Regions from separate parts of the Homo sapiens genome. Here regions 2, 3, 4, 5, 6 and 7 are each linked to region 1. Evidence: fine-mapped expression QTL. A gene starts in region 1. Each other region holds a variant in brackets. All regions are shown on one strand. Distances are from middle to middle.

What was found. PIP is the estimated chance that this variant, and not a neighbour inherited with it, causes the effect.
Region 2: its variant is fine-mapped to the expression of SULF2 in whole blood (TOPMed, PIP above 0.99).
Region 3: its variant is fine-mapped to the expression of SULF2 in whole blood (TOPMed, PIP above 0.99).
Region 4: its variant is fine-mapped to the expression of SULF2 in whole blood (TOPMed, PIP above 0.99).
Region 5: its variant is fine-mapped to the expression of SULF2 in blood mononuclear cells (TOPMed, PIP above 0.99).
Region 6: its variant is fine-mapped to the expression of SULF2 in whole blood (INTERVAL, PIP above 0.99).
Region 7: its variant is fine-mapped to the expression of SULF2 in testis (GTEx, PIP above 0.99).

The regions. Positions count from the first base shown.
Region 1 is chr20:47,783,478-47,787,685 of GRCh38, forward strand. It overlaps SULF2 (sulfatase 2), which reads right to left and starts at 2,004. Exons shown (of 21, transcript NM_001387048.1): 1 at 1,866-2,004. LOC124904920 (a long non-coding RNA gene) reads left to right here and starts at 2,277. Exons shown (of 2, transcript XR_007067618.1): 1 at 2,277-2,685; 2 at 2,928-3,408. It overlaps LOC124904921 (a long non-coding RNA gene), which reads right to left. Exons shown (of 3, transcript XR_007067619.1): 3 at 3,863-3,939. RefSeq lists an enhancer at 3,122-3,291.
Region 2 is chr20:47,903,398-47,907,605 of GRCh38, forward strand. It overlaps the pseudogene RNU7-92P. Among named protein-coding and RNA genes, the nearest start is that of LINC01523, 78 kb to the right of the region's middle. The variant C/T (reference allele first, on the strand shown) is at 2,071.
Region 3 is chr20:47,738,468-47,742,675 of GRCh38, forward strand. The region is part of intron 2 of SULF2 (sulfatase 2); the gene reads right to left. Among named protein-coding and RNA genes, the nearest start is that of SULF2, 45 kb to the right of the region's middle. The variant A/C (reference allele first, on the strand shown) is at 2,301.
Region 4 is chr20:47,763,179-47,767,386 of GRCh38, forward strand. All of the region lies in intron 1 of SULF2 (sulfatase 2), which reads right to left. Among named protein-coding and RNA genes, the nearest start is that of SULF2, 20 kb to the right of the region's middle. RefSeq lists an enhancer at 2,482-3,254 and a silencer at 3,127-3,421. The variant G/A (reference allele first, on the strand shown) is at 2,212.
Region 5 is chr20:47,675,507-47,679,714 of GRCh38, forward strand. SULF2 (sulfatase 2) reads right to left here. Exons shown (of 21, transcript NM_001387048.1): 8 at 3,170-3,298; 9 at 1,572-1,628; 10 at 988-1,117. Among named protein-coding and RNA genes, the nearest start is that of SULF2, 110 kb to the right of the region's middle. RefSeq lists an enhancer at 3,281-3,781. The variant T/C (reference allele first, on the strand shown) is at 2,578.
Region 6 is chr20:47,681,781-47,685,988 of GRCh38, forward strand. It overlaps SULF2 (sulfatase 2), which reads right to left. Exons shown (of 21, transcript NM_001387048.1): 6 at 2,651-2,801; 7 at 1,214-1,389. Among named protein-coding and RNA genes, the nearest start is that of SULF2, 100 kb to the right of the region's middle. The variant C/T (reference allele first, on the strand shown) is at 2,611.
Region 7 is chr20:48,068,711-48,072,918 of GRCh38, forward strand. No RefSeq gene overlaps it. Among named protein-coding and RNA genes, the nearest start is that of LINC01522, 81 kb to the left of the region's middle. The variant C/A (reference allele first, on the strand shown) is at 2,432.

The DNA of each region.
Region 1 (4,208 bases):
TTGGACAGCAGCTGAACTGGGGGACATGCACGTGCATGCACACACACTGCTATGCTGTCCTCCTCCAAGACCAGACTTTTACAGTCAACTCATCACTCTACTCTCAAGTTTGAAAATTTAACATGTTATTAGGGTTTCAGAAAAAGCCATAAATTCAAATAAAAAACCCAAGAAGTACACACAAAGCCCAAACCCCAAACCCACATTGACCCTCAGCTGCAGCAGTGATGCCAACATCACGGCCTTTATGTATATAAATTTAGCTGGGGAAGGAAGAGGCCTTCATGTACAAAGGTCCAACATGCCATCTGCCAAGCCCACCACCTTCGCCTTTCAAGCTGCTTATTAGAACGCTAAATTACACATCCGACAGGCTGTCTGGATGAGTTTTCTCTTCTCTATGATGTGGGAGAGACGAAGCTGGGGAGAACATCTCTTACAGGGAAGGGGCCCCCTTCGTTCTGTCCTCCCTACCCCGTTCCTATACTTAACGATTGGCTCTAATTTAATTAGAACCCTCTGGTGGTTCTGTAATGGGAGGCAGAGGCTGTCAAGAAATCACCTTCACTATTCACTACAAGCTGAAATTTGGAGAGCGCGCAGATCCGGGGGTGTCCTCCAGAGAAAGCCCGTCTCTCCTGCTCCCTGTCTCCCCCTGAGAACCTGCTCCAGCGCAGCCTCCCCTTCTCTGCCCCAAAAGTGGGGGTGGACCCGGTGGGAAACAGGCAGGGGACAGATGGAGGGGCGAGAGGGCGGGTGTCCCAACACGCACAGATGAGCAAATACCCAGATTGAAACGTAAGCTGAATGTAATTACTTGGTTAATTAAATATTGACTTTTAACTCAAAAAGTGATTAAAACAAGCTGCAGGAAGACTTTCCAGAAAGGGGGGCAGGGAATGAATCAAAGCTTTCAAGGGGGAGGAGGAGGAGGAGAGGGTCGTCACAGGCAGGTCTGGCTTGCTCTTCCTACTGTGTGCTGGGCCTACTGCGTGCAGGTGGGGGAGTTGCGGACCGAGGCCAGTGTGCAAACTAGGATTGCAGGCTTCCCTTTCCATCTTCCACCCCGAGACGGCATCTCTCTACCCTGCTGCCCTCCCAGTGAACCGGCAGCTTCTGGCGCGCAGGAGCCAGATCCTGTTCAGCCGCGTTTCCCTGGAACAGAACGCGGTGCCCGGCACGAGGGGGTGCTCCAGAAATGCTTGTAGAACGAATGAACGAACTACTATAAGGAATGTTTGGAAAAGTGCACTCCTAGAATTCACCGCTAGACTTCTGAAACCCCGAGGAGCCGGGGAGGGGAGCATCCCTCCGCCAGGCGATGGAAACTCGTTCTGCCCTGGCCTGGGAGGAAGTCTGCCTTTTCGATCCTGTTTGTCCTTTCGGTGTCTGCGAGTTTCCAACCACTCTGAAGATCCGGCCCACTGCTTCCCCGAGTCCTGCCCGGACAAGCCCCACGTGGGCTGGCATCTACCGGTCCCTTGGGTCTAAACCCTAAGGGTCAACAAGGCCATGCCCCTGCGGATGGCCGGCCCAGGCGCGCTCCCCTACCCGGGGCCGCCTGTGCTCGGTGTGCCGTGTCCGCGGGTCAGGGGCGCGGCGGGAAGTCCTCGCCCGCCCGCCAGCCAGCGGGGTCAAACAGGTCATCCCTCTGCGGACGGCCGGCGCCGGAGCCTCCCTCCCGCCCGCCCGGACCCACCTCCGCAAGCAGCGCTGGGGCTGGAGCCGGGCGGTCCGGACCAGCCCCGGCTCACCTGGGCGGCGCTCGCGGCCGGGCTCACGCCGGGGAAGGCTCCGGCCGCCGCGAGCCCCCGCCCGAGCCCCGCGTCCCCCAGCCACCCACCTGCCCCCCACGCCCCACTCACCAGCGCGCACGGCCCCGGCAACCTCACCCGGAGCGGGGCGCCGCCGCCGCCTCTGCCGCAGCCCGGCCGGGCCGCTGGGCGCAGGGGACTCCGCGCCGCCGCTGCCGCTGCCGCCGCCGCCGCCGCCGCTGCCGCTGCTGCATCCCCCGGCGAGCGCTGCTGCTCCTCCTCCTGCCTCCTCCCCGCCCCCCAACGCCGCCGCCACCGCCCCCGGCCCCCTCCCCGCGCGCCGCCCCAGCCAAAGTCCGGCTCCGCACCCCGCCCGGACCGCTCTTAAATCGCCCCAGCCCGGCCGGCCACGCTGCCCCAGCCAGCCCCTTGGCACGGCGCTACCGCCCCCCGCTCGCCTGCCCGCCGGCCTCCACGCAGGGGAGGCGGGCGCGCTCCGGGGCGGGGAGCGTCGGGCCGGGAGCCGCGGACGGCTGGGGCCCGGGGCGCGGGGGGCCCAGCCGCGGTGCCCTCCTCGAGCCCTCCGCGCGCTAGCGCTTTTACCTCCGGCCTGGGGGACGCGCGGCCCGCGACCCGGCCCTGCCTGTCCCCGGCGCACGGCCCCGGCCCCGGCCCCGAAGTCCAGCTCCGGACGGGGCAGTGAACGCAGAGCTGGGGTCCCGGCGGCTCTCGACCTCCCGATGCCTCCGGACTCGGCTGGCCGCGCTCCCGGCGCCGAGCGCGCACCCTCGCCGGGACACACAGACGCACACTCACTCGACACACTCTCGCTCCTGCTCGCCCTCGGCGGAGAGTTGAAACAGATGTGGGATTCGCCCAGGAGCTGGAAACGAGGGAGGGAAGCGAGCCAGAGCCTTGTGTGCACGTGTGTGTGCGTAACACACAAACCAGGGGGCATCGCTAATAAATCAAATATCGTGATAAATTCAGGAGGGCCATCGATCAGGTCCACTTGGCTGGAAACGACGTGAATCTGCCTCTTTTCCGCTTTCTTCTTCTCCTCTCTCGGAGCTGGAGGGAGCCAAATGTTCCGCGGGGAGTGCGACAGCCCCGGCCGGGCGCTCCCCTCGTAATGACACGTTAATAAATGTTTTCTTTTATCTGCTTTCACAGGACTCGCCCCGGTCTGCAAACACTCGACTGCCTTTGCCGAAAGCCTCGCGCTCGCCTCCAGCCACACACATTTGCCATTGGAGAGGCCGGCGCCGGCCGCGACCCGCAGCTCAATCGCAGGGCAAACCGAGCTGCCTGTGCGCGCCCGAGAACTCCCCGAGAAATTAACTTCGGCTCAAGTGAAAATAGCAGCTGTTGTCCAGAAATGGCCCGGGAGTAGCATAGAAAGGAGAAACCGGCTTCCTCCGAAAGGGGAGGAATTGGACTCAAGGGGGTGCTGTCTACCGTGGTTTCCGCTGTCCCTCGCGCCACAGAAGAGGCCGGAGGGGGACCGGCCTGACGCGGGTGGGCAAAGAGCGGGCAGAGAACTCACCAGCAGCTGCAGAAAACACAGCCGAGTTGCTAGCTAAGGGGAAACAGACGCCGCTGTGGGAAAGCACTTGTAAACAGCAGTAACTTATTAAATCTTGTGACAATCTCACACAGTAAGTTACTATGCCCGTTTTACCATGGAAACCAAGAGAGGTTTAGTAACTGTCCGAAGATCACACAGTTATAAGTGGTGGATCCTGTGAAGCCAAGAAGCCTTAGCTCCCGGCTCATGCTCTTAAATCCTAGGATGTTTTTACTTTTCAACCTAGCATCTCCTTTCTCTGATATGATCCTCCATGGTAGAGTTGTCAGACTTAACAAATAAATATAGACATCCACGGGGAGGAAGTTAGTACTAAAAAATCATTCATTTTTAAATCTGAAATTCAAATCGGATCTCCTGACTGGGTTTGGAGCTCTAGGCTCCTCCCCATAACCTCTGTTAGCCACGCCAATCAAGTTAGAGCCTAAATAAATCAGAAAAACCTTGCACTTGCTTTTCCAAGTCAGGTGCTGGCCCTACCTTTGGCATCACTGATAAGGCTGAACAGCTCCCACCTTCTTTGCCCTGGGACAGAATGTCAGGCTTCACCATCATAGACCGAAAAATAATGGAGACCCCTCTCCTTCCGCCTCATCTCTGCAGAAGGACATATATATCATTTAGAATTTTCTAGTAGTGGCATTAGAAAGTAAAAAGAAACAGGTGAGGGCCGGGCACAGTGGCTCACGCCTGTAATCCCAGCAGTATGGAAGGCCGAGGTGGGCGGATCACTTGAGTTCAGGAGTTCCAGACCAGCATGGGCAACATGGTGAAACTCCATCTTTACAAGAAATACAAAAATTAGGCTGGGCATAGTGGCATGTGCCTGTGGTCCCAGCTACTCGGGAGGCTCATGTGGGAGGATC
Region 2 (4,208 bases), 120 kb after region 1:
AAATACAGAAAGAAGTCCTGCTATTTACAATCAACTTTCACTAAGCCAGTGTTATATTCAAAAACAGCAGATAAAGCTCATGGCTTTGATGAAAGGGGCAGTCTTTTCATTGGAAACAATTAATACTGCTCCCCGTTCTGGGGAGAATTTAAAGAAAATAATTTGGAAGGGGATATGGCTTGATACAATCAAATGATTTCAGATCACAAATGTAATCATTTGATCTTGCTTTAAAACCAAACATTTCAGAACAATCTAGCATCACATTCTCTTCTGAGTCTGTGAAACTCTGAATTCTGGGTGAGTCTGAATTCCCAAGGCAGGACTGAGGATAGAAAAGATTTGATGGCAGAAACCTGGTACTGTGGTTATCACGTGGGTTAAAGATGTAGGCTTGGTTAACCCACTGAACCTGCTTATGTATGAGGCTCACCTGAGAAGGTGATATGGACAAGCCCATCTTATGGGTCTGAGGGCTCTTCACCAGGAGTGGAGCAAGGAGGATGGCCCCAGCGTCCCCGTCTCTGAACACGTTTAGCGGGAGGGCTGTAGAGCCTGGACAGATCACCACTGGCTCCATGGGGAACTTTCAGCAGCACTCATTGCCTGTGTCTATTCTGTGCCAGGCACTGCGCTCAGGGCAGGGATTTGGGATTCACCAGGGCACAAGGCGACGTGCGTCTGTCCTCACGGAGCCTAAGTGCTGGTGGAGACGGACAGTGCAGATGCCAACCGCAAATGACGAGGCACTTGCAGGTAGGGGTCAGCGCCAAGAAGGAAATGAAGGGTGCGTGTCGCTGACTGAGACTCTGGTGGGAGCTACTTAAATAGGGCCATGGGGGAGGGCCTCTCTGAGGAGGTGACATTTGAGCTGAGGCCTCACCAATCAGAAGGAAAAAGCTGTAAAGGGTCTGGGATTAACTCAACCTGGGGACTTTTAAAATAATGTAAGGTGTTACAGCTCTTTTAGAATTTGTCTAGCACGTTTTCCGGTTGTCACTCCCAGGTGGGCTCGGGAAGAGGCATCTGTGCCAGCTCGTGGCCTGTTCTTTGCACTTGTGGGGAAGGGGTCCCCTTTTCCCACAGCCGTCCCCCCGGGGCCTGCTCCCAGGTGGGGTCTGGTTTTCACCAGAAAGCCCTCCATGCAAAAACAAAAAACAAAAAACAAAAAAAACCCACCACACAATTGAATTTGAATTAGTTGCCAGCATTTACATTTTAATTCTAAAAATCTGTATTTTCGACTTCGTTGGAAAGTCAGACTATCTGGCCAGGCTGGGCTGGGATCTGGTGGAGTTCAGTATTTTGGTTTCTGGTTAGGGAGGGTATTTGGGGTTTGCCCCTCCAGCATCTGTTCCAGTGTGAAGTGGGGGTGGAGGCCCAGGCTCAGTGGGGGGATCTGCAGTGGCCAAGGGTCTTGGCTGTCTCCAGATGGCCGGATGGACGCTGCCCCCTCCTGCTTGGGGTGTGCTGGGGTTCTTTGCTGCCCCTCCTCCCAGCCCACAGCCTCTTGAACTCCACGGAGACCACCCCCATGTGAGGCTGGGAAGGGAAACCTGCCTTTGTAAGTGGAATCAGGTGAAATCGGGCTGTGACTGTGTCAGTCAGAAACTAAAAGGCCCTGTCACACCCGTGGCCAGGAAGACTGTCACCATGGTGGCATGGAAATGACAGAGACGTGTGGGACAGCGTCTGCCAAGAGACGAGCCAGGTGAGGGCAGGTCGTCATGAAGGAGGGAGGTGGGGTCCTCCCCACAGAGCAGCGCCATCCCACAGAGAAACAGCCTCTGGGGAGGGACGCGTTCCAAGGAGGCCCCGTGCAGTGCAGAGTGGGTGGCTCGAGGCCTGAATGCCGGGCACTCGGAGCGGTCAGTGTCCCCGTGGGAGCAGGGCTGCTCGCAGCCAGGTGATTGGCGACCTTGGATGGTCAGCCCCTGTGTGCGTGTGAGGGGGTGGCCCTCTCCTCTGTCTCTTCTGAAGGCAGCAGTAAAGGAGGGAGGCCAAAGAGCTCAGTGTCAGACGAGCCTGGGTGCAGGTCCCACTGCCTGCCAGGCCAGTGCCTCTGAGCCT[C/T]AGTTTCCTCATCTGTATAGTGGGGTTAATCCCAACCATGTATACTGTCTGCCTGCCATGTGCCAAGCCCTTCTAACACATCTTTGATTGCCTGAGGGCAGGGACTTTATTATCCACCTTTAGAGTTGAGAAAGAAGAGGCACAGAAAGGTTAAACCACTTACCGGGGGTCACACAGCTGCTATGGCAGAGTAAAGACTCCAGACTCAAATGGAGCACTAAGCCCCGCCCTGGGCGCCAACAGGTGCTCCAGGAATGTCAGGTGCCATTTATCACCCTCATCACCTACTGGGAGCGCTCGTCCCATCATGCAAACCCCGTGAGCGTGAAGTGAGGGGACACGTGCAGGATCGAGTGTACTGGCGGGTAATGAAAGTAAAGTAATAACCACAGGATGATATTCACAACCCACAGTAGTGCTATCAACAGCCGCATCTGCCTGCTTCTCTGGGCCCAGGATTGCCTGCAAACTCCCAGGAACTGGTCCTAGGTGGGTCAGAAGAAGGGTCTGACGTTATGGGAAGGAGCAGCTTGCCCAGCTCATGGCCTGTACTGTGCATTGGGAGTCCCTGCCCCCAACAGCTGTCCTCCAGGGCCTGCTCCCAGGTGGGCTCAAGAGGCCACAGAGCTAAGCAGCTTTAGGCCAGGGTTCTGCGGGTTACTGTGTGCCTGTGGGAGTGACACCCCCACCCCCAACCTTCCTGCCCTGCCAGCTGCTGGACACACAGCAGCTACAGGGCATGAACCCTGAGACCAGGACCTCTGTGGGTCCCATGGCACAGAGCCCCCTCCTCCCTGCCCGACTGAGAAGGAGGAGGCGCGCCTCAGGGTGAATCCTGCCCCCCCTCCCCCGCTCACTGCAGGATAAACGGCCTCTAGATCGAACACCTCACAACAGGATGTGTCTTAGCGTGGTTTATCAAATCACAGGCTGTGATGCATTAGTGGGTCTTGAAATCAATTTAGAGTGTCAAGCCCGGCATTGAAAATCTGCAATAGAACCAGAATAGACTAGGTCAGGAGGCATCAGAGCGCGTTGTGTGCAGCGAGGGTGAGTGTCGTTTGGGTAAACGTGCTGCGTATCTGTATAAATGGATGTGCTTGTGTGTGGTGGGTGGCAGTTTGCAATGTGTTTTTAGGTGGGTTGCACTAAAAACGTTAGAGAATCTCTGTCTCACCGCCTTACGGTAACACAAAGGGGAATCACCTAGTAGTGATCATTTTCCTCAGAACCTTACATTTCCCTGATTTGAGACCGTTTATAAGACTGAGAAACAGGTCTAAGCTGGTGCCAAGAGTTTTGGTTACGTCAGGGATAAGGCTGTGGCTCTCTCATCCCACAGTCCATGCTGAGGGCTGGAGGGGAATTGAACTGCAGGATGAAGTGATGAACATGCAAGAAATGAGACCGGGAATGGGAGAGGCTTGCAAGGCAAACAGAGATGGGGAGAGGAAGGGACGTGGGTAGGGGTGGGTGACTGTGAGGGAGAGAAAGGGGGTGAGGGGTTATTTATGAAGCTCTAGGAGCTGCCTTCCTAGAGTCCGTGCCACCTGGACTCAAACACTCATTGTCCATTCAATGACCCCTTGGAGCTTAAGAGCTCTGTTAGGATCTGAAATGTGTCCAGCAGATCTTCGGAGCCATTGAATTTTCATCCCATGTGGGATCTGGACACATATGCATGCAAACTAACATCCTTACACATATGCACACACAGATACACATGCCCCCACATACTCATGCATCCACGTGCTCACACACAGATACACTCACACATATACATTCATGCACATGCATGCATACAATGCCCACACATATATGCACACTGATACACACTCACAGACACACTCATATGCACACACACACATAGACACACTTATATGTACGCTCACACACATGCTCACTCCTACATGCACTCTCCCACACCCACACATGCCCACGCACTCACAGACACAGTGAGTCAGGTGTATTTAATACGCAGTTCGTGCCTATGCCTCCCCCAGATCCCCATGTGACCTGCTCGTTAGAGGAGGCCCGGAGTCCTTGGGGGAGCCCTGGTGTCCCGCCACCTGATCTCCATGACAACCCATCCCGACACCGGTTTGTGAGTGTGAAAGCTTCAGGGCCCACAGGACCTC
Region 3 (4,208 bases), 45 kb before region 1:
GACCATATTTGGAAAGAGGGTGATATGGTTTGGCTGTGTCCCCACCCAAATCTCATCTTGAATTGTGGCTCCCATATTTCCCACGTGTTGTGAGAGGGATCTGATGGGAGACAGTTGAATCATGGGGGTTGTTTCCCCCATACTGTTCTCTTGGTAGTGAATAAGTCTCACGAGATTTGATGGTTTTATAAAGGTTTTCCCTCTTGCTTGGTTCTCATTCTCTCTTGCCTACCGCCATGTAAGATGTGCCTTTCACCTTCTGCCATGATCCTGAGGCCTCCCCAGCCACATGGAACTAAGTCCATTAAACCTCTTTTTCTTTCTAAATTACCCAGTCTCGGGTATATCTTTATCAGCAGCATGAAGACAGACCAATACAGGGTGTCTTTGCAGATGTAATTAAATTGAGGCTACTGAAATGAGATTTGTTCTGGATTCCCCAGGTGGGCCCTAAATCCAGTGACAAGTGTCCACATAGGACACAAAGTGGAGAAGACGCACAGGCACAGAGGGGAAGGCCACATTCAAAGGGAAGCAGAGACTGGAGGGATGCACATACAAGCCAAGGAACAAGGAACTCCTAGGGTCCCCAGGGCTGGAAGAGGCAAGGAAGGGCTCTCCCCTAGAGCCTTCTGAGGAAGCACAGCCATGCTAACACCTTGATTTTGGACTTCCGGCCTCCAGAACTGTTGAGAGAGTAAATTTCTGTTGTTTTAAGCCACCCAGTTTGTGATCTGTTAGGACAGCAGTGGGAAACCAAAACAGGGTCTACCAGGCATGTGAAGGCTGTGATCCCAATCACCTAGCAACCCCCTAGAAACCTGAAAACAAGCATCAGACCCACTGCAGCCTCCTGGGATCTGGGGAAGGCCCTCTGCTCAGCAATCAGCTGCTTCTACTTTAAATTTTTACCACCAATCAAGGCACCAAGGTCGTGCCCCTGAGGTCCCAGTATTGCACATTGGCCGCCCTCCCACCTCCTGGCCCCTGCCTCAGCCGTACCCCCAGCCTGGGATGCTCTCACTCCTCCAATCACAGGGCTACCTCTGTCTCCTTCAAGTTATTGATCAGACACCACCTTCTTGGAGAGGCCTTCCCTGGCCTGTATTGAAACCACCTCCCGCAACCCATAGCACTCTCCACTCTGCTTCCCCGCTCCGTGTCTCTCCACAGCAGTTACTGTCCTCAAACATAAGTCATTTTGATTTCACTTATTTGTATGTTGCTGCCTTCACCACAAGGGCAGAGACTCAGCCTACTTTGTTCACTGCCTAGCACAGTGCCTGGCACATAATGTGCTCAACAGAGACCAGCTAAATTAACATATAAAATACTATCTTACACTCGGGTTTTCATATCTCAGGAATCCAAACCAGTTGGTGTCCACAGACCTGTGTGTTGGTGTCTTGTAGAGTGGGTTTTAAAAATGTGACATTAAATAGCATCACACAGGATATGTGCTCTCCAGTTTGCCACACTCCCCCGTGCTCCCTACAGTCTTACACCACCTGCACCCACTCTCATTACCTGCCCGACCCCTGAAGGCTTGGGTGTTGCAACCTTCTGATATAGCTAAGGAACTGAGAGCACTCCAACTTATTCCTGGGGAAGAGGGCAGTCTTCTATGCCAGTAATAATCATTATAATTAATAGTGGCGACTATCACTGGCTGAATGCTTATGGCTGGGCTGAAGACATTCATCACTTAATTCTCCCAATGGCCCATTTGACAGAAGAGGGAACTGAACCTGGGGAGCTGAATGACTGGCTAAGGCTGCACAGCTGGGAAGGCAGTGAAGACTCAAGCCTAGCAGAGGCGGGGTGCTGAGTTTCACGTTCACAAAATGTCACAGTCACACGGGAGGTGGTAACAGTGTCCTGAGGAAGTGCATAGAGGTCCCCATGCTCTTGGTCCACTCTTGGCTTCAGTTAAGCTCAGAATGGTCCCTTGGTGACCCAGAAGGGGGTCCTCTAGTGGTGACTTCATCAGGCACACCAGGGGTGGGGGTGGCCCAGGGTCACATCACCAAACACCAGGGATGCTGGTGGTGTGAAAGGCCACTGGGAGCTCCAGGCAGGGGGTGGCATTGCCTTAGATTAATTGCGTGGCTTGGTTTCCTTCTACTTAGGGCAAGTAACCTTAGCTTTTCCTTTAGGGTGGTGGAAATCCTCTTAAAACAACAACAACAACAAACAATTGCAGCCGATTTTTAAAAAGTAAATAATCGTACAAGTGGCACACAGATATATGATGAAAATTGTGAGGGAATGATTAGAATTTGGCAATCATTGGCTTGGTA[A/C]AACCCGGACCTGACATCCCTTGATGTGTGGCTTGGTACAACCCTGACATCCATTGATGTCATTCGGCTGTCGATTAGACCTCAGGTGCCACACCCACAGCCAAGCCCTGATGTCACCGTCCCTCCTGCTCCTCCCGAAGCCACTCCCCTTTCCTCCGGGTACTTGGGCAATCATCTTGGCTACGGTTCCTCCCATCTTTCAGTTCCCACATCCAATCCATCAGCAAAGCCTGTTGCCCTCTCTTCAACGTAAACACCCACGATCGTACCCTTGCCACCTCCCCCGTGGGTCAGGCGATCATCCTCTCTCCCTGAAATCAGGCCAGTTGCTTCCTGATTGGACTCCAGTCACTTATTCCCCACGGTGTAGCCAGAGTCTCCTCTCCTGACACTCTCCGGGGCTCCTGCTCACTCAGAGGAGCCCAAATCTTTCTGGCCATCCACAGAGTGTGGTGGGACCCAATCCCCTCCCCTCCCTAACCCCATCCCCCTCTCCGCCCACTCTCTGCAGCCACAGGGTCCCCTGCTCTGTCCACAGACTGACCAGGCGTGCTCCCATCCCAGAACCTGTGCCCTGCTGTTCCTTCTGCCTGGAAGACCTCTCCCCCGGAGCCCCGCAGCGGTGCCCTCACCCCCTTCTTGTCTTTACTCAAAAGTTCCCTTCTCCGTGGAGTCTTCCCTGGCCCCCAATATTTTCTACTCCCTTCCTTGCCTGACATTTTCAACCCTGCACTCATCATCTAACACATGATATACTTTTATGTTTTTATCTACTGATCCCGTTTGCTGTTCCCTGTGACTTTTGATGGCTCCACAGCTCAGCCTAGAACAGTGCCTGGCACGCAGTGGGTGCTCATAAATATTTCTTAAATGCACGAGTCCAGGGCACCCCAAGTGGAATCGATCCTTTGCTCCCTAGTCCCAAACACGAAGGAGAAAGGACGAAGCAGCTGGTAGTGAGAGCTCAGCCTCTCTCGGTCTCCAGACCCTGCAGAAAGGACAAAAGCTGGCCACCCACCTAACTGGTCAGACCCTTCTCCTGGAAGGGAACGCAGGGCAGGCCGTCACCTGATGAAATCACCTGCACTCCGCAGCCCCCAGTGCTGCCTTGGCAAACAGTGAACAGCCTCCAGAACCATTTCTTGTTTTTAATGGGCTCAGATCCAGGGTCTCGAAATGCTTAGATCTCCTTCCTCCTCATTCCAGAGGAAGCGAGCTGTGAGGTGCTCTTGGCCAGCACTCACCCTTCCCAAATCAGCTGGCGGAGGAGCGCTGTGTCAATCCACGAGTAAAGGACAACAGTGCCCCGGAATGACAGCAGCATCTGTGCATGGGCAGTGCTATGTGCTAAGCCTCCCCTTGGGGACAGTAACCTGCTTTATTAAAACTGCCATAGCGACGAGGCTGTGTAAACCTACCTCTGTAACACAAAAACATATGATCTCATCCCCTTGCCCAGCCCCAGCCCTAATGCAGAAGGACAGCTCCGACGGGAGGGAAGGACCTGAACGACACGGCCACACAGAAATGAAAAGGCCAGTTTTCAAGCTTTTCAATGCAGCTGGGCCAGCCAACCTCAACTTCTTTCGTCCAACATAAACCTGGGGACATGCAGACAAAAACAGACCCGGTTTCTTTCCATGACCAAACCTTCCCACCATACTGGGTTGAGGGTGAGGTCACTCTGACACCTCTGTGACTCTGATGGGCTGGAGAGGCCTCACCCCCAGGCCCATCTGTTGGGATTTAAACTTGGGGGCCCAAACCACCCAACTGCTAGAATGCAGTTTCTCCCATGACACTCCTGAACTGCCTCCCCATTCACGGTGGCTTTTTGGGGGCCTGTGTACCACTGTGCTATGATTTGTTTGATATTTGTATTTAACGTGATTTAAGAAAAAACCCTTT
Region 4 (4,208 bases), 20 kb before region 1:
CTCTGGCTCCTCCTCTCCATCCTGAGTCTTCTCCAGGACCTTGGCAAAGGCTCGCCAGCCCAGGAGACATCTCTGGAAACAGCTAACGTCCTGAGCATTTAGAAACATCATTTTTAGTTCTCAATTTCTCTGCCGATCTGCCAAGAGGAACGGGTCTGAGTGACTGATGCCCTCACCTTCCCAATGCCACAAACCACAGCGGTGAACAAACACCTGGGACCTCATCCAGACCTGTTTAGAAAGACCCAGATGGGCTGTTTTCCTCTGAGGATCTCCAAATCCAACAAGAGGAGGAGAGAGAAGTTTGGGAACAATCAGGCAGCTGAGGTGGTGGGAGAGGAAGAAGGGGCCAGAGGCAGAAGGAGGCACTGGTCAGATGGTAAATGTCCATGAAAGGCGGGAAGAAAGCAAACTGTGGGTGTGCAGATACGTCCCACGGGCTGGGGCCAGAGCCCCGCAACAGACCTAGCGGCCTCCCCAGGTGGTCCAGAGAACCTGATCATTTCTCTCTCTTCCTTCTTTCACTTTACAAATACGTATGAAGGACCTCCTATGAGGCACAGTGTTCAGTGATAGGAGAATCCTGCCTGGATTCCAACAGCCTCCTAACTGGTTTCCCTGCTTCTACCTCGTCCCTTCCATCAAGCAGCCAGACAGATCCTGTTAAAACAAAAGCAAGGGCCTGCCTTCCTCCACTGAACGGCCTTCAATAACTTCCATCCCACGCAGAGTAAAACGCAAAAACCCTCCAAAGGGGCTACAAGAACCCACCCAACCTGCTCCATCACCTCTCCGACCTTATTGCCTTCCCCTCTCTCCCTTGCACACCTGGTTCCAGCCACACGGTCTCTGTACTGTTCCTTGCACATGCTAGCACAGCCCACCCCAGGGCCCTTGAACTTGCTGCTCCCTCTGCCTGGAGCCTTCATTCAGGTTATCTTCACCATCCCTTCTTCCCCCTCCTCAGGTCTTTGCTCAAATTTCACCTTGGCAGGTTAAAACCGAAATCTCTGCCCTCCCCAGTAGCACTTACCACCTCTCACAGCTAGCTCCTTTATTTCTTTGCGGATGTCCTCCAGCAGAATATCAGCCCCCTGAAGGTACAGGTTTTTGTCATTTTTGTTCAGATCTATATCCTCAACAATTAAAACAATGCTTGCGGCATAGCAGGCATTCAAAATATTTACTGGCTTAACAAAGAATTATCTCCTGTCTCCTGGTAACAGCCCCTGTTAGTGCTTTGAGGCCACAAGTGCTCTTATTTCCCACCCCCCCTTATATATGGTTTGACTGCAGGGCAGCGCATGTGAGCCAGGTGGAGCCAATCAGCAATTCCAGCTCTAGCTTCAGCGATTGGTCCTGGGGCAGACATGTGACCCAAGTCTGGCCAATAAGCGAGAGGGAGTCCTGGAGGCTGGAGGAGACTGTGCTGGGTGCCAGGAGGCATGAATATGGTGCTGATGGTGGCCGCCCATTGGATGGAGCCCGAGAGAGAGGATGCTGGTGACAATGGGGTGGACCAAGTTGCATCTTGTAGCCAGGTACAGACTCAAAAAAGTGCCCTTTGCTGCTTAAGAGAGTCCGAATTAGGGCTGTCATTTGCAACAGGGAGCACCCAGACCAACACAGGAAACACCCTAGAAGAACAATAATGAATGATAGCTAACATCAGGGGCCCTGCACAATTCTAAGCACTTTTAGTGTGTGACCTCACGCCACCCTTACAACCACCTTGTGAGTTGGGATGCTCCATTTACAGACAAGGAAGATAAGGCACGGACAGGTTCCAGAACCTGCCCAGTGTCGTGCAGCATGGGTGCTGAATACTGTCCCTTTGGTCCTCCCTTCCCATCTTCTCTCCACCTCCAAATCCAACAAGAGGAGGAGAGAGGGCTGGGCGCGGCAGCTCACGTCTGTAATCCCAGCACTTTGGGAGGCCAAGGCGGGCGGATCACGAGGTCAGGAGATCGAGACCATCCTGGGTAACACGGTGAAACCCCGTCTCTACTAAAAAAAATACAAAAAAATTAGCTGGGCGTGGTGGCGGGCGCCTGTAGTCCCAGCTACTTGGGAGGCTGAGGCAGGAGAATAGCGTGAACTCAGAGGTGGAGCCTGCAGTGAGCCGAGATCGAGCCACTGTACTCCAGCCTGGGTGACAGAGCGACACTGCCTTAAAAAAAAACAAAACAAAACAAAAAAAAAAAAACAGGA[G/A]AGAGAAGTTTGGTAATAATTAGGCAGTTGAGGTGGTGGGAGAGGAAGAAGGGGCCAGAGGCAGAAGGCGGCATTGGTCAGACGGGAAACACTCATGAGAGGAGGGAAGAAAGGAAATTGTGGGTGTGCAGATATGTCCCACGGGCTGGGGCCAGAGCCCAGCAACAGACCTGAGGGCCTCCTCAGGTGGTCCAGGGAGCCTGATCATTTCTCTCTTCCTTCATTTACTTTACAAATATTTATTAAGGGCCTGCTATATGTGAGGCAGTGTTCAGTGATAGGAGAATCCTGCCCGATTACAACAGTAATCCACTCTTCCCTGTCCCCTGGGAGGTTCACTTGGATGTGCCACCTCCAAGTGACAGACAAAACAAGCAAGCCAGCATGGCTATTTGCACACAGACATTCTGACCCCAGAGCCTACTCTTTTGACACTTATGCTGACTTGGAAAGCAACAAGTGATACAAGGGACTGAGGTTAAGTGTGTTGTATAAACAGCAAGAGGAAAGGGGAAACTGCTGGCCTGGGAGCAGTCAGGGAGGGCTTCCTGGAGGAGTACTTAGCATAAACTGAGCAGCCTAACAGGAGCAAAGTTCTGAAGAATCCAAAGGATTTGGATGGCCAGTGAAGAGGAGGGTGGAGGACAGGATGCTTCAGGCAGGAGAAACAGTTTGGGCAAAGAGCAGGCAGAGGAAACAGAGAGAGGCCCCTGGAGGGATGGGAAAGTGTGGTCCCAAACCTCACAAGCCCAGAAGCTGTCTAGACAGGGGATGACACACGCACATCTGTTAAACTTTACACTCCCCTGTGTCTCCCTTTCTTCCTGGCTACAGGCTTTCTCCAGCCTTCTCTCCTCCTCTTTGGGGCCGTCAAAGAAAGGACAGAAGCTCCTGTAACCTATGGGCCACAGCTTCTCCCTGTCTCCCCTACCTAGCCCAGGCCATCTTGTGGCTCTCCTTGCCTGTTCTTGGAATTCCAAATGGAGGCAGAGAACCAAGCCGGCTCTCAAGAACAGGGCAGGAGACAATAGAAGGGTCATTCAGAGGGAGGAGGGAAAGATCAGGTTTCAAGACAAAGGCTCAGGATCTGGAAAGGAAATTAGGGCATAAAGATTGTAGGGCAAAAATGCAGGGCTTAGGAACCCAGTTACCTGCCTAACTATTGATGTAACAAGACATTCCTGAAGGCTCGTGTGTGCCAGGCACAGTTCTTGGCACTGTGGATAAAGCAGTGAAAAGAAAGCTCCCTGCCCTCCTGGAAGTGATACTCTAAGTCAACATAGGAAAAGCTGGAGTTGAAAGATTCCAGCTACATGTGAGAATGATCAGAAAAGAGGACTGGAAATAATGGCAAACCACCGGCAAGCTGTGAGAACAGAGTGGCCATGGATTAAAGTTAGAGCACAAAGGAAATTTAGAAACAATGTATTCAAGTCTTAGGAAGCTGAGCACCAAAATGTTTTGTATGTCAAGTGGGTAGATGTTTGACAGGCCATATAATTCACACCCTCAAATACCTGAGCATCTGCCACTTGCTTTGTACTGTTTCATGATCAGTAGAAAAAAAAAAAAAGAACAGACAAAACTCTCGATTCTCAGAGAGCTGACAAACAGCGGACAGAGGTAAGCAAACAGCCTGATACTTACTTGGGGGAAAATGCCACAGGGAACACGCTGAGTAGGAGGAGGGTAGGATCTAGAGCTAGCCTGCCTGGGTTTGGATCTCAGCTCCGTCACTTACTAGAGGTTGGGCAAGTGTCTGAACCTCTTGTCTTCTCAGTGACTTCATCTGGAAAGTGAGGACACCTACAAGCACTTGCCTACAGAGTGGATGGTTTAACATGCACGGAGACTTTCAACAGATCTGTATGCAGCAAGTGCCCAATAAATGCTGGCTTGTGTTCTCTGCTAGGTTTGGGCCACCCAGGATTATCTCCTTTCTATAACAGCTCCCAATTTTCTTGGGAGTCTGAGGCCGGGTGTGGCGGCTTACACCT
Region 5 (4,208 bases), 110 kb before region 1:
AATTCTGTGTGCAGTGTTAAGATGGAGTCATTCAAATGCAGTCCATCAGAAACGCATCCACTTCAGGCCTTGGCCTTCAATACCAGGGCCCTGGTTTTGCTTTTTCTCATAGGTGAAACAGGCACACAGCTCCAGCCCCAGCTCAAAGTCCCAGCCTTTGACAGGCAGGGCAGGGACACACCTCCGGCACCCCTTGGGCCAGCCAAGGCAGAGTTTCCATCCCACTCCCCTCCCTGCCCTGCCCCGCCCCCGACCCTCCTCTCCAAGCCTGCCCTGGCTTTCCAGCCTCAGAAAAGCCTCCTTCAGGCTTTCCCAAACATGTCAGTTTCTGGCTATCTCTGATACTTCCCAGATAATTTTCTTTTTTCTTATGTTTTTAGAGACAGGGTCTTATTCTGTCACCCAAGCTGGAGTGCAGTGGCGCAATCATAGCTCACTGCAGCCTCCAACACGTGGGCTCAAGCCATCCTCCCGCCTCAGCTCTGGAGTAGCTGGGACCTCAGGCATGAGCCACGGACTGTTCCTGGCCATAATTTCCTTAATATTTCTCTTGCAATCAATTCACTTTTTAAAACCTTACCTATATTTATTTTAAAAAGCCATGTCTTATTACTCCTATAAAAGGAAAACCAGTCACAAAGAGGATACTGTCAAAGTGAATATGGTGAAAATAAAATAATTTAACTCCTGCTGGGGCCTTCGTGCAAGAGAGATCGGCAAGGGCTAGAGAGGCGCTAAGGGCATACACACACCCACGGGACACTTGGCCTCTGACACGGTCAGGGTCCAAAGGCTGCTGAGAAATGAATCACTTATTGTGAGCATCATCCTGCACCACCAAACAGCATCTTGGGCACCACACGGCAGCAAAGGACTACCCGTTGGGAGGCCCTGGCCCTGCTGGCTCAGCGGCTCTCAGAGCCTCGCAGGTCAGGGCCGGCTGCAGTCAGGAGGGGGAGCCGTTGGGAGGGAAGGGAGCCTTCTTACCTGTCCCAGCTGCTCACACGCCGTCTGGTACTCAGCACGCTGACACAGGTCCTTCACACGCTGGTACTTGGGCAGAAAGTTCTCCTCCTGGGCGTCCACCTTGTCATTGTCTCTCTTGTGTAGCAGCTTGCTATGGGGCAGAGAGCAGGAGCCGCGGGGCCGGCCTCTCAGCTCTGGAGGAGCCCCGGAGGCATGTGTGCCCACCTAGAGGGGTGCCCCCTCGGCTCCGGCTTTTCCTCACAGTGGAGGGCGCAGGGCCACCTGCCCGGGTCTTCTGATGTTTAGGAAACTTAAGACATTGGAATTTTATAAGAAACTTCCCAAATTGCATGAGTTGGCAATAAATTAAATAAATTGAAGACATTGTAGAGGCTGGACAAAGCATGCCAAAAGCGTACACGTGACCTCAGACCCCAATTCTGTGTCTATAGGAGCAGTGAATGGGCTTTGTGTTTAGGGGCCTTTGGACCAACTTCAGAGCCATGGGCAGCTCCTGAATAGCATGATGCGGTGGGGCTACAGAAGCTTCCTGGGCAGAGGGAGGGAGGTGGGCAGGGGTGTCCCTCCCAGGACCCGGCACTCACCCTCTCTCCACCAAGAAGGAGTCCCGCCAGACCCTCATCTTCTTTTTCAAGTGAAACCTGGAAAAAAGCACGGCTCCTGCTTCTCAGCAACATGAGGGCTTCCCACGACCCCCCGTTCCCCCAGGAGCAGGGACGGCACCAGGAGTCAGCCTTGGTTTACGGTCAGCCTGGACAGCAATTGTGGTGAGTGTGCCCAGCTGGGCACTAGAGCATTGCCCACCCTCCTCTGAGTTGAGCCACCCCTTCCCCAGAGACTTGGGTCTGGAGACACACACAGTAGAAATGACCCAGGTCAAAATCACTGTAAGTCCCACCCAAGTAACTGTGTGTGTGTGTGTGTGTGTGTGTGTGTGCGCGCACACACATCTCAAGCCCCTCCCAGGAAGCCCAGCAACTCCCCCGGCACTAGACGAGCTCTATCTCGAGTTCAGCGTCAGGCGCAGTGGTTCAGCATCAGGCGCAGTGGTTTGGCGTCTTGAGCTCTGTCTTGAGCTCAGTGTCAGGCGCAGTGGTTGCCTTGATGTCAGGTTAATTGCATTGGGTTTTGGGAGTATTTTCTTCTTTGGTGCTTTGCAGTTGCATGTATGTAATTTGTATGTTTCATCCAGTGCCACCTGGTCATTTCCATTTCCTAGATGGGGACTCTGAAGCTGAGAGGGGAAGCTTCCACCCTGTCCCCTGACCCCCAGGTGTCCTGGCTCCCAGGCCAGTGTCCCCAAACATGTCCATTTTATACCATTACAGCTTGCCTGGCCTCACAGTCAGGGGAGGAGCCTCAATGGACACGGTCCCCCTACAGGGCAGCCAGATGTGGGCACACAGTGCTCGCCTGGCTGGAGCCTCTGGGAGGCCACAGGGGAAGGGCTCCGCTGCCAGAGGTGCAAGCCAGGAGTTGAAGTAGCACCTGGAGGCCAGGAACCTGGTGGCTGTTAAGAGCGCTGGCCACCAGATGTCGCTGCGGCCACACCAGCCTCCCCGCCCTGACTCAGCCCACCTCCCACCTGTC[T/C]GACTTGCTCACCCTCACGGTTCCTATTCTGCCTCTCTGGACACCTAGGAATATGTTCCCATCACACCCTCCAGCATTAAAGTTATGGGGCGTGGTGAGTCAGCATCTGAATTCCCAGAGCTACATCCAGACTTGCTGGGATACCTCCGACACGTCACTCAATCGCTTTGGGATTCAGATTCCAAACTGGTAAAATGGGGATGATGATAATGTCCACCTCGCTGGGTTACTGTGAGGATCAAATTCCTAGATTTCCCTGCACAGTACTTAGAATAGGGCCTCACACACAAGCGCCGTGCAGTTAGCACCATCTCCTACCATCACTGCTGCTATCATTTCAAGCTTTGGGTAATTTTAGCTCAGAGAAGGTCCCCAACTGGTCACCTTGGCCACATTCCAGATGGGAAGACAGAATCTCGGAGAGGGGACCATGCTTCTCTCCCACAGCAGGTAAGTGGTTGGCATGGCGGGACCTGAGAACCCCAGCTCCCGACCCTTGGAGACCCCACGTTCTAGACCCACAGGGTTTTGCTCTGAGTTCCCGCAGGTCAATGTCCCGGCCCCCTCAACACCTGCCCTGCTCCGTCCTCACCGATTCACCGGCCGCTCCGTGTCCAGCAGCTTGAGGATGGATTTCCCGTCCATATCCGCAGGTATGTCCAGGCCTGCAATGTCCAGGATGGTGGGGGCCAGGTCAATGTTGAGGACGATGTGGGGATTCCTGGGGGAGGCAGGAGATCGGGGACTCAGTCACTCAGGTGGTGGTGCCTCAGCCTCGCGTGGGGGGTGGGGAGCGGTAGGTGGGCAGCAGTTTGTGGGAGGCTGACATCTGCAGGTATGGAAGCTGCAGTCTGGCACCTCAACCTCAGCAGCTCCCCTCTGCGGCCCAGATTCAGCTGAACCCCCACTCTGTGCTCGCCCCCCCTTAGTTTCTGTGTCTCAGCTCATGCCGTGAGCTGACAGCCTCACCCTGTCCCCCTCCTGCCCTTCCTGTCCCCACTTCCTGAGTGAAGGCGACCCCCCCTTTACAGCCAGCCCAAATCCTGGCCCTTCCTGAACCCTTCCCCTGAACCTCTGGGGCAGACACTGGCTCCTCGCTGTTCCTTGACAGCCCAGGCACAGTGCAGCCTCAGGGCCTTCTTCTTTACCATCCTCTCTGCCTGGAATGTCCTTTCCCTGGAGATCAGGGGCCACCGTCCCTCACCCCTTTAGTTCTTTGCTCTATGACCAAGGAGGCCCGTGACAGGCCTCAGTGGTCCCCAGAATCCCTGTCCCTGGTGATCACACCTTAATGTGACCCCCTCACCTTGGGTGTGGACCAACCTGCACCTGCTGCCAACCAGTGGGTTGTGAAGGTGATGGGCTGTCACTCCCGTGGTTGTGTTATGAGATAGTCAACTACTATCCTGCTAGCAGTCTGGCTCTGGTTTCTTTCTCCCCTTGCTGGCTTTGAAGAAGCAAGCCACTCTAAATCAGCAGCTAGACTGTGAGCAGTCTGGGAGGCAGACTGCATGGGTTCAAGTCCTCTGCTTGCACTTGACCTGCCCCATGAGCAGGGACGCAGATGCTCCCCAGTCAAGCCTCTGGATGAGACCACAGCCCTGGCCGGCACCTTGATTTCAGCCTAAGCA
Region 6 (4,208 bases), 100 kb before region 1:
GTTCAAGCGATTCTCCTGCCTCAGCCTCCTGAGTGCTGGGATTACAGGTGTACGCCACCATGTCCAGCTAATCTTTGTATTTTTAGTAGAGGCAGGGTTTCACCATGTTGGCCAGGCTGGTCTTGAACTCCTGACCTCAAATGATCTGCCCACCTGGGCCTCCCAAAGTGCTGGGATTACAGGCATGAGCCACAGGGCCCGGCTTGCAATGAATTATTATGTAGTTCTTAGACCAGGCCCTGAAGAGTAGACACTCCATACGTGTGGACTGTCGTTATTACAGCTCTTAGTCCAATGGGGACGCTAAGAGCCAAAGACGGGCGTGATCTGATAAGGTCAACAGTCAGTCATCACTTTCTCTGGCCTTGAACTCATGCAGCCTGCCTCCTGGAATTCTCGCAAAATGTCCAAGGCAGTGGGAACATGTCAGTCTGGAATTCCACACTGCACTGTCAACGCCTTTTCAGGAGGAATTCCGCAGCCAGCCCTGTGTGAGTGCTGGGTGTGTGTTCCCACATCTGGGCATGAGCAGAAGGCAGACCAAATGACAGTCTTAATAGCAACACATCTGCTTTTCAAAAACCTCATTTGAGCCAGCCTCCATAATATCCCAGCCGATCCAAGGAAGCTGCTGCCGGGAACAGTGGCCTGTCCGCTCCCCTGCCCCAGACGCAGCATGTTCGCTGCCAGAACATGTCAACTCAAAGGTTAGCCCGAGGAGAATGGCTGGCTGAGGGCTGCGGCCCACGTGGTCCTCCAGGAAGGATGGGAGGGAAGAGCATTTCCCTTTGTGCTGCTGCCCAGAGTTGGCTCAGCTGATCCCAGCTGACAACCAGCTGCCTGTGCTGTGGTCCGGGGTTCCTCCCTGACAACCTCCAGGCTCAAAGACTGCCCAGCCCAGAACAGAAATCCAAGCACCATTCCCACCCGCTGGTGACATGCATGTGCGCGCACACACGTATACAGCCCAGCTCCCTGGATTTCCTGGCATACGGCCCCACCACACCTGTTTCCACAGGTGCTAACAGCTCCCGGCCTCTCCTTCCCCAGCAGAGGGATATAACATGCATGACATAATTGCTTTCCGCTGGCCCTGGGGTACATCTGCGAAAACTGTGTGCCACCCAGGGTGGGCTTGGGTTTGGGCTGCATGGTTGAAGCCCTGAGCTGGGCCCAGGGGCCTCCCTGGGTCCCTGGGGGATGACACACTTACAGACAGCCGGCTTCCACGTTGGGGCCCCTCACGTAGAACGGGACCCTGATGTCAAACTCATATGGCATGGATTTCCCTTTCACCAGGCCAAACTGGCCGATGTGGTAACCGTGGTCGGCGGTGTATACGATGTACGTGTTGTCCAGCTCGCCCGTCTCAACCAGCATGTTGTAAATCTGCAACACGGGCGAGGAGGCAAGGGACAGTGGGGACTGGGTGCCTGGCCCGTCTCCGACCCGGGGTGACAGGCGCTTGAGATCTCAGGCCCCGTCCCTCCCCTGCTTCAGGTCTTTGCTCAACTTTCCCAGGGGCTGTCCCCTTTGTCACTGCACCTTCCTGCCTCTTGTCACCCCTGGCCCGCCCTCCCCTCCACGGTTCTTCATGGCCCTTCTTGGCATCCATCTCTTTTACTTATCTGTGGATCATCTGTGTCCCTGCCTTGGCATGCTGCCTCCATTAGGGCAGACACTTTTGTCATTTTGTTCCCTGCCTGCTGTATCCCACGTACACTGGCACTCAATAATGCTGTCAGGTGAATGAATGAATGAGTGAAACTTGGGCTGCAGCCTATGGCAGGATCTTGCGATCTGGAAGGGCGCCGTGTGGCAGAACTTTCTGCATTGGTGGCCGTGTTAATGTCTGCACTGTCCGATATGGACACATATTGGCTCCAGCCACACGAACCTACTGAGCATGTGAAATGAGGCTTGTGTGACAGAAGAACTGACTTTATAATGTTACTGCATTCAGTTTAAATAGCCATGGCTAAATAAAATGTGACAATACCCATACAATGCGATATTATTCAGCAATAACAGGGAATGAGGGGGACTGATTCATGCGACACCAGGGGTGAAGCTTGAACACGTGGCGCTAAGTGAAAGAAAGGCGCTGGGCACAGAAGGCCACAGCGTGTACGATTCCATTTATAGGAAGTGTGCAGAACACCAAATCTATAGAGACAGAAAGAGATCACCAGTTGTCTGGGGCTGGGGGTGAGGGAGATTTAGTGGGCCATCTAAGGGCTGTGAGGTTTCTCTTTGGGGTAAGAAAAATGTCCTAACATGGATGTGGTGATGGTTATACAACTCTGGGCATATTAAAACCACAGAATTGCACACTTTAATTGGGGGAATTGTATGGTATGTGAATTACATCCCAATAAATGTGTTCAAAAATGTAAATAGCAGGAAAAAATATAACTAGCATATATGGTTACCGTATTGGGCAACACAGATCTAGAAAATGTTTCATGAAGGAAGAGGCTTTTGTCTGGATTGCTCCAAGCTGTTCCCCAGGTCTAGCACATGGGGCCTCTTCATTCTGCCTTTGATTTCTATTCCTCCAGGAAAACCCTGAAGGGCCAGGAGGTCTCGGCCCTGGCCTGGCTGGGGGTT[C/T]GGAGCCACGCCCACCAAGAGGCATGCAGCGGGCGCCTACCGTCTCCATGGAGTCGTCCACCGACATGAGGGTCTGCAAGCGCTTCCGCTGGAGCATGTTGGTGAATTCCATGTGGATGGGCTTCATGGGCCCCGTGTAGCGCATGATCCAGTGTTTGTCCGGGTTGGGCGCGTAGTTGTAGCTCGGCGTGCTGGTGGGCAAGGACATACACATCGGTCAAACCCAGGGACAGCCTGGACCCTGCCTGGCCCCCGCCAGACCCGCCCGGATGAGCAGCCACCCTGTGCTGTGTCTGCAGCCCAGGGCCAGGTGTGATCTCCTGGTGGGAAAGGGGACATTGGCATGTCAGGGGCTTATCCAAACCCTGTTTCAGCGTTTCTCCACGTGTGAAGTGTGCACTTGGGAAGCTCCTAAGAGGCACAGCATTCAGTGACCTTGAGTGACAAAGTGAGACAGCCAGTCCCTTGTCGGCTCTCTCAGGGCAAAGTCTGTTTGGTGCTAGTGTTTCTTTAACACCTCTCTAGACTTTGCTCGTCTTCCTTTTGAAAAAAGGGAAGAAAGTCAAGTTCAGAGCCTTCATCGGGAACCAGTACCCAACTCAAATTCCATAGCATTGCTTTGTGTGCCTTGTACCTATTATTGGTAGATGGCAGTTACCTTTGGTGAATGGCAGGTGGCAGTTATTGTGGTTAAGGTAGGACCACGGAATATCCTTTTGCAATAGATTTTAGTTTGAAATAATAGAAATGGATTTAAAAATGAAATAAGTCATAGTTTTATGTGTAAGGCCAGAATTGTGAGGAAGGCACCTGAATGTGCACATTTGGGACATGCCACATTCTTTTTTATTTTTTGAGACAGTCTCGCTCTGTCGCTCAGGCTGGAGTGCAGGGGCGCAATCTCAGCTCACTGCAACCTCCACCTCCCAGTATGAGTGATTCTCCCGCCTCAGCCTCCCAAGTAGCTGGGACTACAGGCGCGTGCCACCACACCTGGCTAATTTTTTTGTATTTTTAGTAGAAATGGGGTTTCACCATGTTAGCCAGGATGGTCTCGATCTCCTGACCTCGTCATCTGCCCACCTTGGCCTCCCAAAGTGTTGGGATTACAGGCATGAGCCACTGCACCTGGCCTCTTTGTTTTGAGATGGAGTCTTGCTGTGGTCCAGGCTGGAGTGCAGTGGTGGGATCTCAGCTCACTGCAGCCTTTGCCTCCTGGGTTCAAGTGATTCTCCTGCCTCAGCCTCTTTAGTAGCTGGGACTACGGGCTTGTGTCAACACACCTGGCTAATTCTTGTAGTTTTAGTAGAGATGGGGTTTTGCCATGTTGGCCAGGCTGGTCTTGAACTCCTGACCTCAGGTGATCCACCCACCTTGGCCTCCCAAAGTTTTGGCATTACAAGCATGAGCCACTGCACCTGGCATGCTGCTTAATCGTGCAGCAGGAGTGTGTTGGGCAAAGTTCTGTCTGAGCACCTGTGATGTGAGGGATGGAGGGACCCCAAGCAGGTATCTATGATGATATCATGGCAGTGGTTGACTATACCAGCTGCTGGGGTTCGAGCCCCAGTTCTGTCTTTGGCCAGTTAGTCCCCTCC
Region 7 (4,208 bases), 290 kb after region 1:
CACACAGCGATCTCCACAGTGCCTGTCATGATGTGGTCGATTTTGATGGCAAAAATAACTAATTGAAACCCTACGATTTGTTTACTTTGAATACATTAAGGTGGTGGTTATCAAATGGAGCTGAATTATCCCTTAAATTACCATGAAAACAAAATCAATAGTTTATTTACCACACAAAACAAAAGAAAAAAGAAGGAATAAAATGCTCTGAGGAATCTTTATTAGAAGTTTTCCTTGGAAGAATACAATGTAGATAAACTCAGAGTAAATAAGGTATATGGTAACTTGGAGGAATAAACTGACCCCTAGTTCATAATTGTTTATTTCTTGGTTCCTAGCTTATAAATAGTCCGGTGGGGCCTTTCTAAAGTCTAAATTTCTTTCTAACCAAGTGATTAGAATAAATGTCCCGTGGTCCAACAATTGAGTGCAGTGTGGGTGTTTATACTATTACTTCAACTAAATACTGTTGTTTTTTTTTTAGATGGAGTCTCACTCTGATGCCCAGGCTGGAGGGCAGCGGCATCATCTTGGCTCACTGCAACCTCTACCTCCCGAGTTCAAGCAATTCTCCTGACTCAGCCTCCTAAGTAGCTGGGATTACAGGCACACACCACCACACTTGGCTAATTTTGTATTTTTAGTAAAGACAGGGTTTCACCATGTTGGCCAGGCTGGTCTCAAACTCCCCACCTCAGATGATCTCCCTGCCTCGGCCTCCCAAAGCGCTGGGATTACAGGCGTGAGCCACCGCGTCTGGCCGGTACTTCAACTAAATATTTAAGATTATTAGTACATTGAGCTCATCAATGCTTCCACTTTGGGGTCCAAGAGCAAAACTGGAGCTAATTCAGATTATCACCACCTAAGTTGCTTACTTTTAAAAATTATTATTATTTTTAAATTTGGAATGTCTCAGGGTTTCTGCTCCAATTCATAATTCCTGTGTCTTTAGTGGAAATGTCAGTACTTTATAGGATGACACACACAGCATTATTCCTGGCTGTTGAGACACCAAAAAGCCTGATTTACTGTTCCTTCCAGAGGATCCCCAACACCGACATTGACTAAATTCCTTTTCTGCAAGCATCCTGGCAGATGTTCTGGTTAAGACCTTGCACCGTCACGAGCTCATCCTTTTCATGCTCCAACAGCTGTTGAGTGCTGTGTAGCCACCACCCAAGCATCTGACATGTAAGGGCCCTTCCTGCCCACCTCCTGGTGACAGCTGACAAACTAAATGAGAAGAAAACCTTTATTTTTGCTTCAAAAGATGGAAATTGGATTATAAATTAATGGAAAAGCCCATCTGTGAACATGTTCTTACAATTTCTAAATGTTACAAGTCAGAGAAGCACAAGGGCCTGGGAAATACTCAGTATTGGTATTAGTAACTCCTAAGCTAGGATTTTCCTGGGGGATGGGGAGGAGGGCTGCAAACAGACAGGGAGGCTCTGTGCCCTGATCTCCAAGCCTCGGGGGGGAAATAGAACCAGAGGATGGGGCTGGGCTGGAGAGATGGGTCAAGTCAAGGTGGAGAGGATGTGTTGAGATGCTATGGCAGACTGCGGTGGCTCCTCGTCGCCATCTGTTTTCCTTCTTTTTTATTAGATATTTTATTTGCCATATGGCCATATAGAATCAAAACTCCATTTTCCATCCAGGCTTGCTGGTAGATGTGGCTAAGAAGTTCTAGTTGGGGGAATATAAACCTATTTGTTGTGTCCAGATTCTGAGAGGTATCTTAAGGAGTGAGAACATTCCCTCTGTCCGTCTGCCAGCTGGAATGCAGACTCAGGCGTCTGATCTGGAGCCGTCACCTTGAGCTATGAGTGAGAAACCCTTTGCTGATCATGGCAGAGTAACAAGCTAGAAGGAGCCTTGCTCCTCGATGGCATGGGGGCCGCTGTATTAGCCTTAGGCTGTCCTCCTTTACATAAGACAGAAGGACACTTTATCTTGTTTAAGGTACTGTCCATTTCGGGGGGAACTCATAACTGAACAAAATCTCAGATCTCATCTCAGAAGGCGTCTCTGAGCTAGAAATCTTGGGGAGATTCAGAAGTGTAATAGGTAGTTCCTGTGTCCAATATGATTAGGTGTCCTGGGGAAAACTTCATAAACTTTGAGCAGGAGGGTGTGGTGCAGACTGGAAGAGGTTTCAGGGTTTTGAGAAAGGTGGTGAAGGGTGAGAACTCTCTCACCCACCCCAAATACGCTGCTTCAACTTGAGGATTACTGTGAACTAAAGGTGCTTGAAAAACAGCAGATGCAAGAAGAGCATTCTGATCTCACATTTTCTTCCTGAAGATGGGAGATAAAAATTCCCATGGGAAAGATGCCCTCTTTGTGCCAGGAGAAAAGAAACATTCTTTGATGGGGAGTCCTAGCCGAGATAATTCTGTACAGACCTTGTTAAAACAACTCTTAT[C/A]TTTTCAGCCTCCCCACATGAGTGAGCTGCTTTTTCACAACTTACTGTTCTCTGTCCAATTTCACTATCTGAGGGACTGACTCTGCTTCTTTGGGTCTTCATTTCCTTAAGATGGCTCCCATGCCACATAAAACTTGTACTAAATAAATTTGTATGCTTTTCTCCTCTTAATCTATTTTAGGTCGATTTCATTCTAGAGCCCAGCTGGAACCCTAAGAGGTTGAAAGTGGAGTTTTGTCTCCTCTGCAGTGGACACTCAAAGAACTAGCCAGGATGGGTTGGACCTGGGAGCAGAGAGACCATGGCTCCCTTCCAAGGCTGGGAGAAGGGAGTTGCCACTCCTTCCCAATCAAACCATGCCAAGAACGAGGCTTTTGCAGGGAAATCAGTGCAGATGAGAACTTACCAACAGTTAAGATGAATAAATATATCCAACTGCCTGGCCCATGTCAACACGCAACAATTATTTGCTAAAAGAAATAAAAAAGGGGCCGGGCAGGGTGGCTCATGCCTAGAATCACAGCACTTTGAGAGGCTGAGGCAGGCAGATCACTTGAGGCCAGGAGTTTGAGACCAGCCTGGCCAACATGGTGAAACCCTGTCTCTACTAAAAATACAAAAATTAGCCGGGTGTGGTGGTGCGCACCTGTAATCCCAGCTACTCTGGAGGCTGAGACAGGAGAACTGCTTGAACTCGGGAGGCAGAGGTTGCAGTGAGCCAAGATGCACCAGTGCACTCCAGCCTGGGTGATAGAGTGAGACTCCATCAAGAAAGAGAGAGAGAGAGAGAAGAAAGAAAAAGAAAGAGAGAGAGAGAAAGAAAGAAAGAGAGAGAGAGAGAGAGAAAGAAAAGAAAGAAAGAAAAGAAAGAAAGAACGAAAGAAGAAAGAAAGAAAGAAAGAAAGAAAGAAAGAAAGAAAGAAAGAAAGAAAGAAAGAAAGAAAGAAAAGAAAGACTGACTGCATGAACAACAGCCCAGGAAACACAAGAGAAGTAGCGTGGAGTAGTGGCCAAGGATGGGTGCTAGAATCTCAGAGCCTATATCTGTATATCAAGATGTCTCAGGCCAATGCCTAAAAACAGTGTTCAATAAATATCGAATAGTAATATTACTACTGTTATCACAATTGAGAATAACTGAGTGTCAACCAGCTGATCTGCTTGCCAATGAAGGGACTCCAGGATCCTTAAGTCACTTCTATTTTTCTCCACTTCCCTGGCAACTTTTTCTCCAAGACTAGATCGATTCAACACTCCTCCAAGTCCTGGGTTAACCTCAGTGGCCCTCTGCCTCCCATTGTGATCACCTTCGTCCACAGCAATCTTTTCCTTCTCCGACAGCACATTATTACCTTGTCATTGGGCACTTGAAGTAGACATCCTTTGACATCCTCTGTGAATGTTACCTTATTTCATTCCTTGTTTTCCCAGCATGTAATGGGCAAACAAGGCCCTTCAAAAAACAGATCTGACCCTGTTGACTTCTGCAGACACATCTAGCATCTCTTTCAACTTGAAAAATCATGTCTATATTCCTGCATTCCTAAGCTACCAGCTAAATTTTTTATAAGTTTAAATTTATATTTGGATGTAATTATATATTTATAAATTACATATATATTTTATATTTTTAAGATATTTACTTGTGTAAAATAAATAAATAAATGGGTAAAATTTTCAGCATATTGTAAATACTGGATATTTTAAGAGAAAACCGTAATATAACTTAAAGTATGTCCAACTGAGGCTCAATACGATTGTGATTTGATACCTGTCA